Regions from separate parts of the Homo sapiens genome. Here region 1 is linked to region 2. Evidence: fine-mapped expression QTL. A gene starts in region 2. The other region holds a variant in brackets. All regions are shown on one strand. Distances are from middle to middle. Region 1 overlaps GABRB3 (gamma-aminobutyric acid type A receptor subunit beta3). Region 2 holds the start of LINC02248 (long intergenic non-protein coding RNA 2248).

The links. PIP is the estimated chance that this variant, and not a neighbour inherited with it, causes the effect. A credible set is the group of variants that fine-mapping cannot tell apart.
Region 1: its variant is the best candidate, but not a certain one, in a credible set for the expression of LINC02248 in atrial appendage (GTEx, PIP 0.60).

Annotation. Positions count from the first base shown.
Region 1 is chr15:26,558,434-26,566,433 of GRCh38, reverse strand. It overlaps GABRB3 (gamma-aminobutyric acid type A receptor subunit beta3), which reads left to right. Exons shown (of 9, transcript NM_000814.6): 8 at 5,258-5,502. Among named protein-coding and RNA genes, the nearest start is that of LINC02248, 170 kb to the right of the region's middle. The variant C/T (reference allele first, on the strand shown) is at 4,719.
Region 2 is chr15:26,390,863-26,399,394 of GRCh38, reverse strand. It overlaps LINC02248 (long intergenic non-protein coding RNA 2248), which reads right to left and starts at 4,338. Exons shown (of 6, transcript XR_001751453.2): 1 at 4,151-4,338.

The DNA of each region.
Region 1 (8,000 bases), 170 kb before region 2:
TTACCAACTTTTCCCAGGACTTTAAATTGAATAACGTGTTTTCTTTTCTAATAAAATGTAAGTACATGTGTGTATATGGATGACAAACATGTGACTTGCATAGTTGTAATCAAGATCAGATTTATTTCCCAGGAAATAACACATAATTATGGCTTGAGAAAATCAGGTAGCTATTCCTAAGGGTGTTAAGTGGATAAGAAAACCACTCTATGAAGAGTAAAGCTGCAAAAAACTGAAAGTGCTGTTTTAATTGTTATGTATTTCTAATAGGTATCATAAGCACAGTTCTCTAAAAAAAGAAAAAAAATCTCCAGGACTTTTCTACAGCCTGCAGATCTTCCCCAGTAATGTCAGTCTTTATGTAGCTTTTACTTTAAAAATACGTATATTGCTAGATTACTCTTTGTTAAACTCTTTTTTCACTTGGAAAATTCAAAGATACATTTGTAGAGGCAGATCTAAATTATGCAGAGCTGTTAGCTTATACAATTTCAAGCACCCCCTTTTAAGAAAAATAATATGAAATATACAAATACAAAGTTGCTGGGACCCCTCCCCAAGCCTAGAAGAGGCGTATGAAAGTGGAGACCGATCTGAAGCATCTGCTACAGAGAATTTGCCGTCACTGCGATAGTTAGTGAAATATGAGTACCAAGGAACCATGATTATCTGACATCACAAGGGGTGGGGTGTACTGAAAATGTGCATATCTGAATTTCCCAGCCATTACAGATTCTGTCCCTCCCTAATTGTAAAGTATTGCCTTCTACAGTATTAAATCGTTAATACCCCGGAAGTGAGTTACATTCAACCCAATTTCATTAAGTTATATGAAAGTAGATTCCACTTTTTCTTCATGACAGCATTATTAATATAAACAAACTGTGCCTCTGTGGCTTTGCTGGGATAAAGGCATGGGCTGGCTAGGGTTGCTGAGGCTTCAACATTGGAGGATTGACGCTTGTGCTCTGGGAGGCAAGCATGAGAGCCAGAGTGAAGGGGATATTCACTAGAGTTAGGGTGACCCCGAGGTCAAGAGGGCAGCTGTGATCTTAGGGCTGTGGGTCTGGCCAGACAAGAACCCAACAGATCCAGCTCTCAGAGTATGACTGACACCTGCACATGCATTCCCTCTGTCCCTCCTGCCAATACAAGACTGAGTCTAGATCTACAGTCACTGGGAAATGTCAGTTGGTGAATTCAGAAAAAGTATGACGCAGTGTCAGGAGCACTGAGTAACATCATCATCATCATCATCATCATCAATACAACAGACAAGATTAATAAAGGCTGAAAATTATCACATAGTTAGGTGCCACATTCTCTGCTAAGGCCATTCATGTAGTTTATCTGTTCTGGAGAAGACTCACAGCACAGTACGAAGTATTATTGCTCCAGTTTTACAGAGCACAAAAATAGAATACAGAGAAGCTAAGTAACTGGTACGAAGTCATATAATTACCAAGTTTCAGAAGAAAGATTTCAATCCAGTTAGTATGACTTCCAGACCTTCTCCCTTAACTACTGCATATAATTCCTAAAGTGTCAGTAAAACTACAGTAAAGAGTTATTTGGTCTACTATGTTGTAAAAGTCATGGATTTGTTTAAGAAAAGAAAAAAGCTAACCAAACATTATGAACTCTTATTATTGAGGAATCCCTCATAACTGTTAAGATGCTACTGAGCTCCATAGGATACAGCTATAGTTTGGAGGGCTTTCATTGGAGAAATCCCCCTTCCTGCCACCCCTTCCCAAGCACCTAGTCTTATAGCACAGCTTTGAAATGCTTACAGTGCTTTTTGCATTCATCCTAAGGGACTGCACTGTGATCAATACACATTGCTTCTAAATGCATGATAAAGGTGCTGCCTCTGCATAGCTAGGACGGGTGGGGCTCGGCAGAGGCCTCTATTGAGGGCTCACCCTTGGGCTCTGGGCACTGTTGGACCTGGACTCAACGCGGGAGGGACTCAGGGCCTGTTCTGCTGGCTCTTCAGACAGCCGTGCTCCTCGGCTGCTCTGTGGGCTTCAGCATGATATGCTTCTGCTGCCCAGGGTCTGACCATCAGATACATTGAACTGTTAGCGTTAACGACCACCAAACTTTAAAGTGGGAAGTTGTAATTAGATGGCCTCCCTCAAAACCCTCAGTGAATACAGGTTGGGTGTCCCTTATTCAAAATGCCTGGGACCAGAAGTGTTTTGAAAATCAGATTTTTTTCTACTTTTGGAGTATCTGCATTATACTTAGTTTGAGCATCCCTAATCCAAAAATCCAAAATCTGAAATGCTCCAATTAGCATTTCCTTTGAGCACCATGGAGGTGCTCAAAACGTTCCAGATTTTGGAACATTTCAGATTTTGGATTTTTAGGTTAGAGATGCTCAATCTGCAAAAGTACTGATACTTCTAAAGGTAAAAACGTATACTGATAAAATTTAGGCCAGATTATTTTTATCATGAGGAGGAGAAACAAAATATTTTGACTAAATAATGCAAAGAAATTATATTTTTATTTCATATTCATTTTTATAAATACAGCTTTCAAATACAATATTTCATACATAATCTAAATGACAAATAAGTTGAGGCTAGCAATTTACAGAAAGACTTACAAGCCTGGTGAACGTACAAAAAAACACGAAAGCCACCACCCAGCCATTTCCTGTACTGCAGCTGGATGATTTCCCTTTAGAGAGCAGAAGGTCAAGGCAAGGCCAGGAAGCCTAGAGGCTACCGAAGAATGATTTTTCTGTAATGATGATAGTCATATGATTATTTGTTGTTAGTGTTAACAGTGCCGGTTACTATTTATTGGCACATCAGAGCTTTTCAGCCATTGCCATTAGATTTCCAACAGCTCGAAATGATGGCTACAGACCCACAGAGGCAGAGCTGGGCTTTGGGTCTGGGCCATGTGGCTCCCCTTTACAGGCTGTGGACCACCACAACACACCACCATCCACAGTATCCCCCATAGCAGGTAAAGCAATAGAAGGACTTAGTAAATGCATTGGCCTCTTAAGCTAAGAACTCATGTGGCATGTGGGTCCAAACTAGAAAGACCTGAAGTACTCACTGTGAAATCTTATTGTTAGGGATTCCTGAGCCTGTGCCAATCAGCCTGGATCCAGGGTCCTAGCCCAGGTCCCTCTGGGGTTCATTTACCAGGCTGAGTGCCTGTGAGATGTGCTGGCTGTACCTATTCCTGTGTGCCTTCAGCCCATTGTCTGGGACATCTGCCGAGGCCTGTGTCATACATGTCCATTCAAAATAGCCAGCAGGAGAGGCAAAGTCGTGACTAAAGCAAAGCGCTCGGTCTTCCCAAATCCAAGTTGAAGGGGGAGAGACGGTAGTGGCAACAACATTACAAACTTTTTGAATAATGGTGAGAATGCCTAATTTTGTAGCATTTATGTGGTGTTTTCACATTTATTTGTAAACAGTAATTATCCCATTGCCATTTTCAAATTTAAAAAGTCCCCAGGTGCACATGAATGTGATGTTAAAAGAGAATCTTAAAATATTCTGACATCTTGGATTTCCATACATTCCGTCAGCAACCATGGTTTGCAGTTCTACATAAAAAGAGTTTCTCAAGTCTTCAGTTCTCTTCTTAGCTTTTAGTAGCAGTTCAGAGCTCAGTGGAGGGAGCGCTTGTGTTGGAGATGGAAGACTGGGCTGTCTAGCTTGCTCTCCAGCTGATTCCCAGGCCAGCTGAGCTCTGCAGTCTCAAGGTTCTCCCTGTGGGACACAGAGGATGAGGATGCTGCCTCCCAGGATAGGATGGGAAATCAGAGGGCATGAAATTGGAATGCTTAGTAAATTCAAACTCTGCCCTGGAGGGCTGGGCTGGGACCATGTGCAGAATGGCCTGGGCTCCGTCCCAGAGTACATATCTGGACAGTGCTGAAATGTAGGGCTGGCACTACCTCTTGGCCTCAGTGATGTCATGTGGGTTTTGGGTTACTGAGGATGAAGGATTATGGTTAAGCTCTCTCCTTTGAAAGTCTCCTTTTTCAGGGAAGCCTGACAAAGCAATGCGGAGGAACCTATTCTCTTTATTGGGTCCTGAAACCCACATCTTCACATTCAGTGGCATCAGTGGCATACGTAGAAAAGAGCTCAGCCCTCAAAGCTGTCTTGCTTCCTTGAGACATATTAATATGTCAAAAATACAGTCTCCAAGAGAGCGCGTCAGCTGCAGTACTACCATCCCACCCTACCACAAGGGAGTGATCCGTGCCTTTCCTGTAAGCGCAGCGTAACTTAACTCCACAAGCTCTGGGCATGTCACTGACTTGCCTCCTGGTGTCTATGGCCTCAGATGATTCAGTGCAGAATCTTATGTCTATTGCTATGGGAGGGAGAATTGCAATACATGGTCCACACATGGTTTTAGACTAAATTGAGCTCTATTTGGGAAACAATGAGATCATCCATACAATACTATGTAAAGAATTCAACATAACGACATTTAAAAAAAGGATCTGATGAGTTGCGCCAGAGTATGGTGGGATTCTATAAGATGAATGAAATCATTAACCCTTAACTTGAGCAAACATTTCCTAAGCAGCTTGTGTACAGATTCTTTCTTAGTTGAGGAGGGAAGTCGCTCTCTGAGATCATCTTCCCTCAGAAGCTTCACTCAGCTATTTCTTTCTCTTTGAGCTCAGGACTGGATCTCATGGCTAATAATTTTAAAAATCATTGCCT[C/T]ATTCCTCTTGCTTCCAATAAGCATTGTAGTAGGAATTATTTTCTTCTCACAGGCTGCCTCACTGAGCTCTCGCTCATAGCCTTGCCTCTGCAGCCACAGACACCTCAAATTCATTCTTTTTCCTGGAGGTTTCTCATCTAGACACTTTGTGCTTTATGCTAAATTCTGGGCTTATTTTTATTTTTTCCAGCATTCATAAAAACCACATTCTTTTTTCCTGCTCTACATATCTCTTCTTCTACTCTCAAAATTCCATCGTGTGTGATAGCAAGGTGTAGTGGGCAGGGGGGTGGGTGGGGGAGGGAGATGCCCTGCACGGCTTCACTTCCCCAGAGTACAGATGTCAGCTTGCTGTTCTGAGTGGTGACGTGCGGTGCAAATGACAAGATGTATGCTCTGTTGCATTCCAGTCACCCCACAGTATTCAACCCCTTATCTCTGACTACTTAAAGCTGTTTGAGAAAACATAAAAGGAAAGTGAAAAGTGAAGACCAATGTGGCAAAGTTTCAGCCTCTCACCACTTTGTTTCTTTTCTAGGGATCACAACTGTGCTGACAATGACAACCATCAACACCCACCTTCGGGAGACCTTGCCCAAAATCCCCTATGTCAAAGCCATTGACATGTACCTTATGGGCTGCTTCGTCTTTGTGTTCCTGGCCCTTCTGGAGTATGCCTTTGTCAACTACATTTTCTTTGGAAGAGGCCCTCAAAGGCAGAAGAAGCTTGCAGAAAAGACAGCCAAGGCAAAGAATGACCGTTCAAAGAGCGAAAGCAACCGGGTAGGCTCTCCACCACCTTGACCCCACCTGGTCCCTGCAGCTCAGCAGCTACTGCATTTACTTGCATGATATTTCTTTGTTTTTTCCCCAGTAGTGTATGTCAAGCCACACACCCTTCTTGTACTTGTGATATAGCCCTTATGACATGGCACCCAGGTGTTTTTTATTCAGGGGTTGCTCAAACCAGTCCAGTGGAGTCCTGGCCATCTAGCTAGGACTGGCCAGAGTTCACTGAAACCAGTGGTTGTAGGCTTACACAAAGAGGACTGTTGGATTGGCCAACAAAATTGACTTTTGACATTTCCGTGCACATTGACCCTGGCCCGGTTGCTTTTTGCCCAGGTAAAGCATGCCCAACAGTCACTTTCATTACTCCAGTCTACCCTCAGGGCACAGACCTAGGCTTTCTTCCTCTCACCAGTAAGCCCCTTAAAACAGCGTCTATCTGGATGGGCAGCCTATTGAGAAGTGGAGTGCATTCTTGAATTTGGGTGAGGGCATTTGGACTGGGGCTGGTTAATCTCTGGCCTGGTGTTGAACACAAGGGAGAGGGTCAACATGGAGCTGGCAATGAAAGACTCCCTTGCCCTTTCTGAATTCTCCACTTACAGAAGTGAGTAACAGGGCCTAATGGTTTTTTAAATATACTTGCATCAGCTTTGTGTAGGACTTGGGCAGGCTTGATGATCATAATCTGAAATATTTCCTTGTGCATGTCACAGGGTTTCCTATAAAACCAATATTAGTGTTGATGCTGGAGAAGCCAAAATCATCTATAGTTTCCTACAAAGAGAACAAAACCTGTGGGTCTGGAAAGAATGAAACGCTGGGGTGGAGAGTGTGAATTTGTTCTACGGAAGCATTTTTCCAAAATGTTTCAATATTCCTTTAGTTGTAAAATTATCAATTTGATGATCCAGCATGCTGCCATTCTTTGCACTGGAGCAGGCACACCATCTTTTGTCCACCTGCCCAGTGGCCACAGTCTTCTAGAGAAAAAGCAAAGTCCAAAAGGAATGCACAAGGCAGGAGCAGTGCTCTTTCTGGAAGCTCTCATAGATCTGCCGTGGCCCTGGCCCCTCCCGGTTGTGTTCTGCAAAAAGCCAGGGTTGGGCAGACCTAGACACTTTGTTTTATGAAGTCCATGAACTTTCTAAAGCCCTTGCACACCCTCCTCCAGCCCAGCCCAACTCAGCAATGCTGTTACATCCTTCCAACCACAAAGCCACTTTATCTTTAGATGTCATTTCAGCTTATATAAAAGCAGTATGTTATTGTGATTATAAACAACATTTGAATGAAAGCACATTATAGTTCCAATATAATTTTTAAAATTTATCTTTCCACCTCTTCTATCCCCTCAAATCCTCAAGTATATATTTCTACCTGTTTACATGTTGGGTTTCTTCCCACATTTTTTTTTTAATTCTTCTTGTTAAACTTACTGTTAGGCCATTGTTCTGTTGCTATAAAGGAATACCTGAGACTGGGAAATTTACAAAGAAAAGAGGTTTAATTGGTTCACAGTTCTGCAGGTTTTACAGGAAGCATGGCAATAATGTCTGCCCGGCTTTTGAGGTGGTTTCAGGAAGCTCACAATCATGGTGGAAGTCAAAGCAGGAGCTGCAGGCAACTTACATGGCAAAAGTAGGAACAAGGAGGAGGGGAAGATGCCACATACTTTGAAACAGCCAGATCATCTCATGAGAAGTCACTGACTATCACAGACAGCACCAAAGGGATGGTGCTCAACAATTCATGAGGAATCTGTGTCCCCACCCAAATCTCACGTCAAATTGTAATCCCCAGTGTTGGAGGTGGGGCCTGGTGGGAGATGATTGGATCATGAGGGCGGTTTATCATGAATGGTTTAATACCACAATACCACCCTGCCTGGTTCTGTCCTCGTGAGATGTGCCTGCTCCCCCTTTACCTTCTGCCATGATTATAAGTTTCCTGGGGCTTCCCCAGAAGCCAAGAGGTGCCAGCACCATGCTTCCTGTACAGCTTGCAGAACTGTGATCCAGTTAAACCTCTTTCTTTATAAATTACCCAGTCTCAGGTATTTCTTTCTTTCTTTCTTTTTTTTTTTTGAGATGGAGTTTCGCTCTTGTTGCCCAGGCTGGAGTGTGATGGCGTGATCTTGGCTCACAGGCACCTGCCACCGCGCCCAGCTAATTTTTATATTTTTAGTAGAGACAGGGTTTTGCCATGTTGGCCAGGCTGGTCTCCAACTCCTGACCTCAGATGATCCACCTGCCTTGGCCTCCCAAAGTGCTGGGATTACAGGCGTGAGCCACTGTGCCTGGCCCAGTCTCAGGCATTTCTTTATAGCAATGAGAGAATGGCCTAATACACCTCCCACCAGGCCCCACCTCCAGTACTGGGGATTACAGTTCAACATGAGATTTGGGCAGGGACACAGATCCAAACCATATCACATACTTATTTCTCAAGCCTATGGAGGTTTTCTTGCTCTATCCTGTGCCCTCCATGCC
Region 2 (8,532 bases):
GAAACATAACAGAGAGCCCAGAAAAGGCTCACATAAATATAGACAACTGATTTTTTTGACAAAGGAGCAAAAAAGCATTTCAATAGAGAAAGCATAGTCTTCTCAACAAATGGTGCTGGAAGAAATAGACATCCACAAACAACAGCAACAACAACATAATCTACACACAGACCTCACACTTTTCTCTAAAAGTAACTTAGATCAGGGATCTAAATGTAAAAAACAGAACAATGCAACCTGTAGAAGACAGAATAAGAGAAAATCTAGGTGACCTTAAATTTGGTGATGACTTTTTAGATACATTGCCAAGAGGGCAATCTATGAAAGCAAAATTTTATGGATTTTATTAAAATTAAAAAAGAGTTGGACTTTATTAGAATTAAAAACTGTTGCTCAGTAAAAGACACTGTCAAGAAAATAAAATGAGAAGCCACAGACTTGGAGAAAATATTTGCAGATCTGATAAAGGACTTGCATCCAGAATACACAAAGAACTGTTAAAACTCAACAATAAGAAAACAAAGCAATTTGAAAAAACAGGCAAAAGATATGAACAGCTCACCAAATAAGCATATGAAAAGATTCTTAACATCATATGTCATTCGAAAATTGTAAATTAAAGCAACAGTAAGCTATTCCTATACATCTATTAAAATGGTTAAAATCCAAAACACTGACAACATCAAATGCTGGCAAGGATAAGGGGCAGCAGGCATTCTCATTCATTGTTGGTAATACAAACGGTCACTTCCCACACAGCCAGTTGGGAAGAGAGTTTGGCAGTTTCTTACAAAATTAAACATATGCTTACCATATGATCCAGCTATTATAGCCCTTGGTATTTACCAAAATGAGTTGAAAACTTCTGTCCATACAAAAACCTGCACACAAATATTTTAGCAGTTTTATTCATAATTACCGAAAGTTGAAAGCAACCAAGATGTCCTTCAATAGGTGAATGGATAAAGGATAAACTGTGGTGCATCCATATACTGAATTATTATTCAGTGAAAAAAGTAAAAAAGTATTATTCAGTGATAAAAAGTTTGAGCCATCAAGCTGTAAAAATACATAAAGGAAACTTAAATGCATATTGCTAAGTAAAAGAAGCCAATTGGAAAAGACTTCATACTACATGATTCCAACTACCTGATATTCTGGAAAAGGCAAAACTACAGACACCGTGAATAGTTCAGTCATTGCCAGGGATTTGGGAGAAGGAAAGGACAGATAAACAGTTACAGCACAGAAATTTTTAGGGCAGTAAAATTCTTTTATAGGATACAGTAATGGTGAATACAAATCATGATAAGTTTGTCAAAACCCGTAGAATATACAATAAAAAGAATAAATCCTAATGTAAATTATGAACTTTAGTTAAAATAATGTATATATTGGCTTATCAACTGTAACAAAAGTACCACCCTAATCCAAGATGTTAATACTAGGGTAAACTGGCCGGGCGTGCTGGCTCACGCCTGTAATCCCAGCACTTTGGGAGGCCGAGGTGGGCGGATTACCTGAGGTCGGGAGTTCGAGAGCAGCCTGACCAACATGAAGAAATCCTGTCTCTACTAAAAATATAAAATTAGCCAAGCATGGTAGCAGATGCCTGTAATCTCAGCTACTTGGGAGGCTGAGGCAGGAGAATTGCTTGAACCCGGGAGGCAGAGGTTGCAGCGAGCCGAGATCACGCCATTGCACTGCTGCCTGGGCAAAAGAGCGAAACTCCATGTCAAACAAACAAACAAACAAACAAACAAAAAAGCTAGGGTAAACCGTGTGTGCGTGTGTTTGGGTGAATAATAGGTATAGATAGAACTCTCTGTGCTATATGCTTAATTTTTCTGTAAGCCCAAAGCTGCTCTTAAAAAGTGTATTAATTTAAAAAATGAAAAGAGAATGAAAATAAAACATATCAAAATTTGGGGGAATACAACTAAATGCGTGCTTAGAGGGAAATTTATAACATTAAAGCCTTATATTAGAAAGAAAGATTTAAATTTATTAACCTAATATTCTACTTAGGAAAACTAGAAACTAGAGAAAAGAATAAAATTAAAACTAAAACAAGCAGAAAGAATAAAATAGAATAAATTAGAGCAGGTTGATATAATTAATAACAGAAAACAGAAAAACAACAGAGGAAACAAATCTTGTTCTTAAAACAGGATCAATACAATTGCCATAGCTGTAGTGAGGATCATAAAGAAAACAAGAAAACCTAGATTATTAATATTATGACTCAAACAGGAAGCATCATTGCTGATCCCACAGACATTACAAAATAATAACAGAATCCACAAAGCATCATTATGCCCATAATTTTGGAAACTTATGTGATATAGACCAATTCCGTGGAAGATTAAAATTATCAAAACTCATTAAAAAAAGAAATAGATAACCAGTAGTCCTATATCTATTAAAGGCATTAAATTTGCAGGTAAAAACTTTTCAATGAAGAAAATTCTAAATAAATTTTGCTCAGTAAAAGAAGCAAGACCAAATGGCTATATAAATACATGTATATAACCTTACCAAAAAGGAAAAAGCGAAATCATTATATCAGAAAACAGACTGGTGGCTTCCAGGGGCTGGCACAGGTGGGGTTCACCTGCAGTTTCCTCAGAGCCACTCTGTGTACTCAGAGAAGAGGTGGTCAGGTAGGCAGGGGAGTCAAAAGCAAGTAGTGGCTAACTTTCTGGGGACCTCAACAAATTCTCTTTCAAGTGGGCTTTGACCTTGGATATGCTCCTTAACATCTCTGAACTGCAATTTTCTCATCCCTTCAATCTCCCACTCTAGAAGATGAAAGTCAAGGAAAGTGGCCGCAACAAAAGGTTGAAGAAAGTGCCCAGCCCGGGCTGGGCAGAGATGACAGGTGGTAGTGCCATGTCAGAGGGGAAGGCACCCCTCCAGGACAGAGGGCCTAGGGATGCTGCACAGAGAAGGAGGGCTTTGAACAAAATACAAATAAAACCTGGTTACTAGGAATTAATTGGCATCAGGAATCAGGAGCTGGGAACCCGGTTCTGCACAGCTAAGCTTCACTAGGCCACTTCCCCATTCTGGCTGTTGGTGCAAGTGTGTGGCCACATAGTCTCCAATTTCCCTCCAGTCCAGCACTTTATGTGTGTGTCTTAAACAAGCCCAGTTGGATGTACTGTGGGAGCCACACTTTTTTAGTTCCCCTTTCTGTCCAATAGCTTCTCCAGCATTGCCAACGACACAGACAACATGCTTCGCAGCAGAGAGGATGCTCTGCTTCTCACTGCTGTCACTTGTTTTCCATTGTGCCCTCATTTTTATCTTGCTTTATGTCCCATGGAGCTGAGTCAGTCACACCCATTCTCCTTTTACTCAGAATCATCAACCAGATAGAGGGTCAAAGAATGCAAGCTTTGACTCTGATCTGTTTTAAATCTTTAAAACAAAACAGTGAAGTGGCCTGTTAGATGCTGTAGTCAGTCCCAGCAGTAGAACATATTAATAGAAATAAGGTCTCTAGAGAGTTGCTGTTTTAATCTGAAATCAGTGCCGCTCACCCATCTACCACCTGAACCCTGTGATTCAAGCACGTGCTGAGTCAGTAGGACCACCTCTCAGTGCAGCTGGCTGGTCCAGATAGTAACGTCAACACTCTTAGAAATGCAGGAATCCCTTTTCTAGCTTCAGAATTTATTTCCTGACGTTCTAGGGCAGACATAAGATGATGTTTACCACTCAGTTATTTTGCTGTTACTAAGTGTGTAAGATTTTTTTAAAATCAAGTTTCATATTTTATTGGTATTTTTTCTTTTATTTTCAGTTGACACATAATAATTGCACATATTTATGGGATATGGAGTGACATTTCTATATGTATATAAAATAGATCAAATTGGGGTAATTAGCATATCTATTACATCAAATATTTATTATTTCTTTGTGTTAGGAACATTCAAAATCTTCTAGCTTTTAGAAAACATAAAGTATTCTTAACTATATTCACCCTCAGTGCTATAGAGAATTAGAACCTATTTTTACTATCTAACTATAATTTTGCTAAGTTAGTGAGATTTTGATATACATATATATATATATATATATATATATATATATATTGGAAGAATCAGTTTATCCAAAACAAAGTAAAATCTCAAAGGCTTACCTAAGAGGAGTCCTAGGATTCAGGAGTGCACAGTGCCCTCGGTTCTCACTTGATGGGCCGTCCACCTCCCTGAGACCCTCTCATGGCCTCAGGGGATTCTCCCGATGGCGGGGAGGGCTGCTGGGAAGCTGCTTCCCACCACGGCTGTGTTCCCATGGGGCTTACTCAGGCACGGTCAGGCCCACACTGTCATCAACACTTAGCTTTCTCTCTCACCCACATCAAGTGATTTTATGAGGCACGAGTTACCAGCATCTCCATGTTACAGATAAGAAAACAAGGGTCCTGGTGTTAAATGACTTTCCCAGATCACAAGTGGATGGGGGTGGCTCTGGGGCCCAGAAGCAGGCAGGGTCTGACTCCCTAGGCCAAAGCTGAGCCTGCAAGCCATCCACGTGCAGTCCCACGGGCCCCAGAACTCAATGCTCAGCCTGTTATCTCCCACACCTGTGACTCTGCCTTTTGATTCTTTTCTTCTCTGACAAGTGCCAGATGGTTCCACCTAAACCAGGCACTCAGGATCATTCTTCATTGCCTCCTCACCCTCACTCTTTTCCAATCTAGGAATGAGCCAGTTCTGCTGAGTTTACTTCCTTAATACTAACCCCTACACTAGTTGCCTTCTTCAGGTTGCGTTTAAATAGTGTTGATCACAGATTCTGGATTAAGCACATCTAGGTTTGATTCCTAGATAAGCTTCTGAATAGCTGTGTGACCTTGGGCTAGGTACTTAACTGCTCTGTGTTTCAATTTCCTCACCTTTAAAATGGAGTAATAATACCAGCTAACTGTATAAGATTGTGTGAAGATTAATTCATGGACATGTTTTGAGATGGAGTCTCGCTCTGTCACCAGGCTGGAGTGCAGTGGTGCTATCTCAGCTCACGGCAACCTCCACCTCCCAGGTTCAAGCGATTCTCCTTCCTCAGCCTCCCAAATAGCTGAGACTACAGGCACGTGCCACCACACCCAGCTAATTTTTGTATTTTTTAGTAAAGATGGGGTTTCACCATGTTGGCCAGGATGGTCTTGATCTCTGCCCATCTCAGCCTCCCAAAGTGTTGGGATTACAGGCGTGAGCCACCGAGGCCAGCCAATACATGCACATTTTTTTGAAGAGTACATGCAAAAAGTGAGTGCTTATGTTTGCTGCTGTTTACTGCATGGTGGTGCCTGACTTTTGGAGGGTGTACTTTGTTAAATGAGGGTGCCACATTTCCAAAGATGCTTATAGGCAGGCGGTTCAAGAACATGGGGACATGTTGGTCATAACCCTCGTGGATATGGCAGCAGGAGGCCGCATAGACATAGACCAAGTGGGAAAAGCAGACCAGGGAAGTACAAGAGCTGGAGGTAATTGCCTGGAAATAAAGGCTGGAGCCAGAGGAAGACCCAGCCCAGCAGATACATGTAGCCCTAGAAGAGAAGATGGATTCAACTCAGAGGCCCCTAGCCAGGAGTGCTCACCAGCCATTATATGCTTCAGCTTTTCCAATGAACAATGGGAAAGTTCCTTTAACTCTCAAAATAAGTGCTACCTTCTAGGCTCCAGAGTAAGCCGGGCACATTCCCTCCTCCCTGCAGTGCCCCTAAGAAGCAGCAGCGAGTTTCTAAAGGGACATCAGCTCCATGTTCTGAAGACTGGTTGTCTTTTTTGAGACGGGTAGCTGGCCCCAACTAAGGTATCAGGAGCCCGGGCAAGTACTTCCACATGGGGCCCTGACTCAGCAAGACACCAATGTTGAAGAACAGAACAGACAGGAAGGGGCTAGGGAAAAGTGTGTCACTTGGAAGGCAAGCAGGGGCTGGGATCATTATGCCCACCTCCATGATGCATCTTGACCTCGCCAGGATGAGCTCTGGAGTCGGGGTCTTCCCCTCTCCACACTCCCACCCCACCAGTGGCTCTCAGGCTGGCCATTCCACTTGTCCCACTCCACAGATAGCCATGGGCTCACAGCCTAGCATGGCCATGCCACCACAGAAGGACCCGCTCCCACCTAGGATTCATGCCATGTAAACAATGACCTTCCGTAATCTCATGTGTGTGACACTTTGGTGTAGTAAAGCCAAGTCTGCCCTTTATACAGAGGAGGGAAGTCAAAGGGAAGCTGAAGGGTAGGGCTGCCAAGGGGATACTCCACAGGCATCCACTTTGGCTGCCAGGGGCTCCTAGGGAAAGAGCTGGTTGATTGACATCCAGATTTGCTGAGCCCATGCTTAGAGTGAGAATTTTTTTTAAAAGATTGGAAAATAGAAGAGAAAATCTGGAAAGAGAAAGCACCATGAATTCCCTCTTTCTATCTTTATCAACAAATAGTAGAGAGAAGGGCAATTTTTTAAGCACCTATTAAAACTTTAAAAAGGATAATATTCACAAGATGTAAGCACCCTAACTTGGGGAACTTGGTTTCCTTCACTGTTGTTTACGACTATGATCTCCAGAATCCAGAACAGTATATTCAAAACATCTCTCTTCAAAGTGTTTGTGGAATGGACTTAAGACTCAGCAATTCTACTTCTCAGGATTTGGTTGCCATTTTCCGCCTTTGCTATGGTATTGAGGGACCCCACGATTCCAGTGTGTTACGGCAGTAACTGCCTCTTTCTCAGCCATTCCGTGCGGGGGCTGCAGGTCGGCTCTGGTCAGCCTTGGGTGTGTTCTTGCTCTGAGACCCAAGCTGGAGGAAGCAGCTCTAATCTCAGATATGAGATAGATATGATAAGGTAGATTTTTGTGGAATGAACAAATCCCCCCCAAATATCCTATTGGATGAAAAAACACATTGCCAAATAATATGTTTTGAAAAAGAAAAAGTACACAGCACTGCCTTTAGCAGGTGCATGTATGTCTATCCATGCCCCTATGAAGGATGGCAAAATATTACCAACCTGATGGCAGGTACTAGCCAGGAAGAGGAAAGCTCCAATAAATGCTGGGCTGGAGCTGCTATTCTTCCAATGTGAGATGGTTGGCTTAAACTGTTCTGCCCAAGAAGAGAAGGAAAATGAAAATCTGACATAGCTCCAACTTCTTGGACACTCTTTCTTCATCTGGTAAGGCAAAAAGGGCAATTTTTAAAATGCCAGATGGCTTTGCTTATCAAATGCAACTCATGTGCTAACAAGTTCCTTTTAAAAGTGAACCTGAAACCACGGGCTAAATTTGGTTTAATGACACATTAAGATTTCTGGCAATGGTTTGTTCTGTGTGGGAAGAAACTCCAGGGAGCCAGGCCTTGATTTGACCCTGAGAGGTTGTGCGGATGACATAAGTCACTCCATGTTGTTTCGTGGACCCTAGTGGGGTTTCTCAACCACGGAGCTCCCAGACAATGATCTGTTCTCATTCTGGTAATTTTGATTATAAGGAAAAAAGAGCACATAACTCTTTTGATCCTAAGTGAACTCTTGCTGAACCTGACAGATGTTCAAGCTTTTCATTTTCTCCTCAAGCAAGGCTTAATGGAGATTTTGTTACCAGGGTAATCACCATTACTCTGTTTGCTCTATTAATCTAGGCTCTCTAAATGTTGACTGTAGATATATAAATATGGCCTAAGTATCCATTTTTCCACGGACTTATCAGCTTGGGTTTTCATTTTGCAGTTTTACTCTAATATTAGTCCCTAATTAAACAACAACAACAAAACCTTCAACTGCCTTTGCTCTAAATCACAAACTGGAAAAAAGGAATTTCACTTGTTCTTTGGATTGCATCAACACCAGCACATTGCTCTATCTAGAAACGCCTCAAGATGTCTGGGCTTTGGAATCACACAGACCCCAGTCTCCGTTGGTTGTTCATCCACTTCCTAGCAGGGCAAAAAATCACTTGACTTTTGGGAGCCTACATTTCTCCCCCTGTGGAGTGGAGGCAATGACCCAGACAGGGTAGTCTGATTAAATAACTAAATAAGGTAGAGGATTAAATAAGATACTGGATGTGTGAAAAGTACTAGAGCTGCTATCTGGAATATAAGGCATGTTGTATGAATGTTTGTTTCTCAAATTCTGATTCCGATTGTTTATGGGAAGATGAGAAATGACCTGCTGTCATAGATTGAATTGCCGTGGGTGAAACTACTCTTTCTGAGATGCCTCAGAGTGGATGCAGGAGCACACCTCCAAGAGTGAGTACAGTAATAGTGCTCTATGTGGGAGGGGTCAGCCCCACACTATTCTACACACTGATGGCCTCACTTTGGCCACCGTGGACCTCAGAGCAGGCACTCACCCCTGCTACTGAGCTGTGAGTGTTGCCCAGGCCCTGGACTGCTGGCTGCGGTTGGGAAGGAATATTGGACATACTTCCACCCTCAACAAGGGGAATTCTATTTCCTGTTTTACACTTAACATCACGTGAACTTAGCTATCCATTT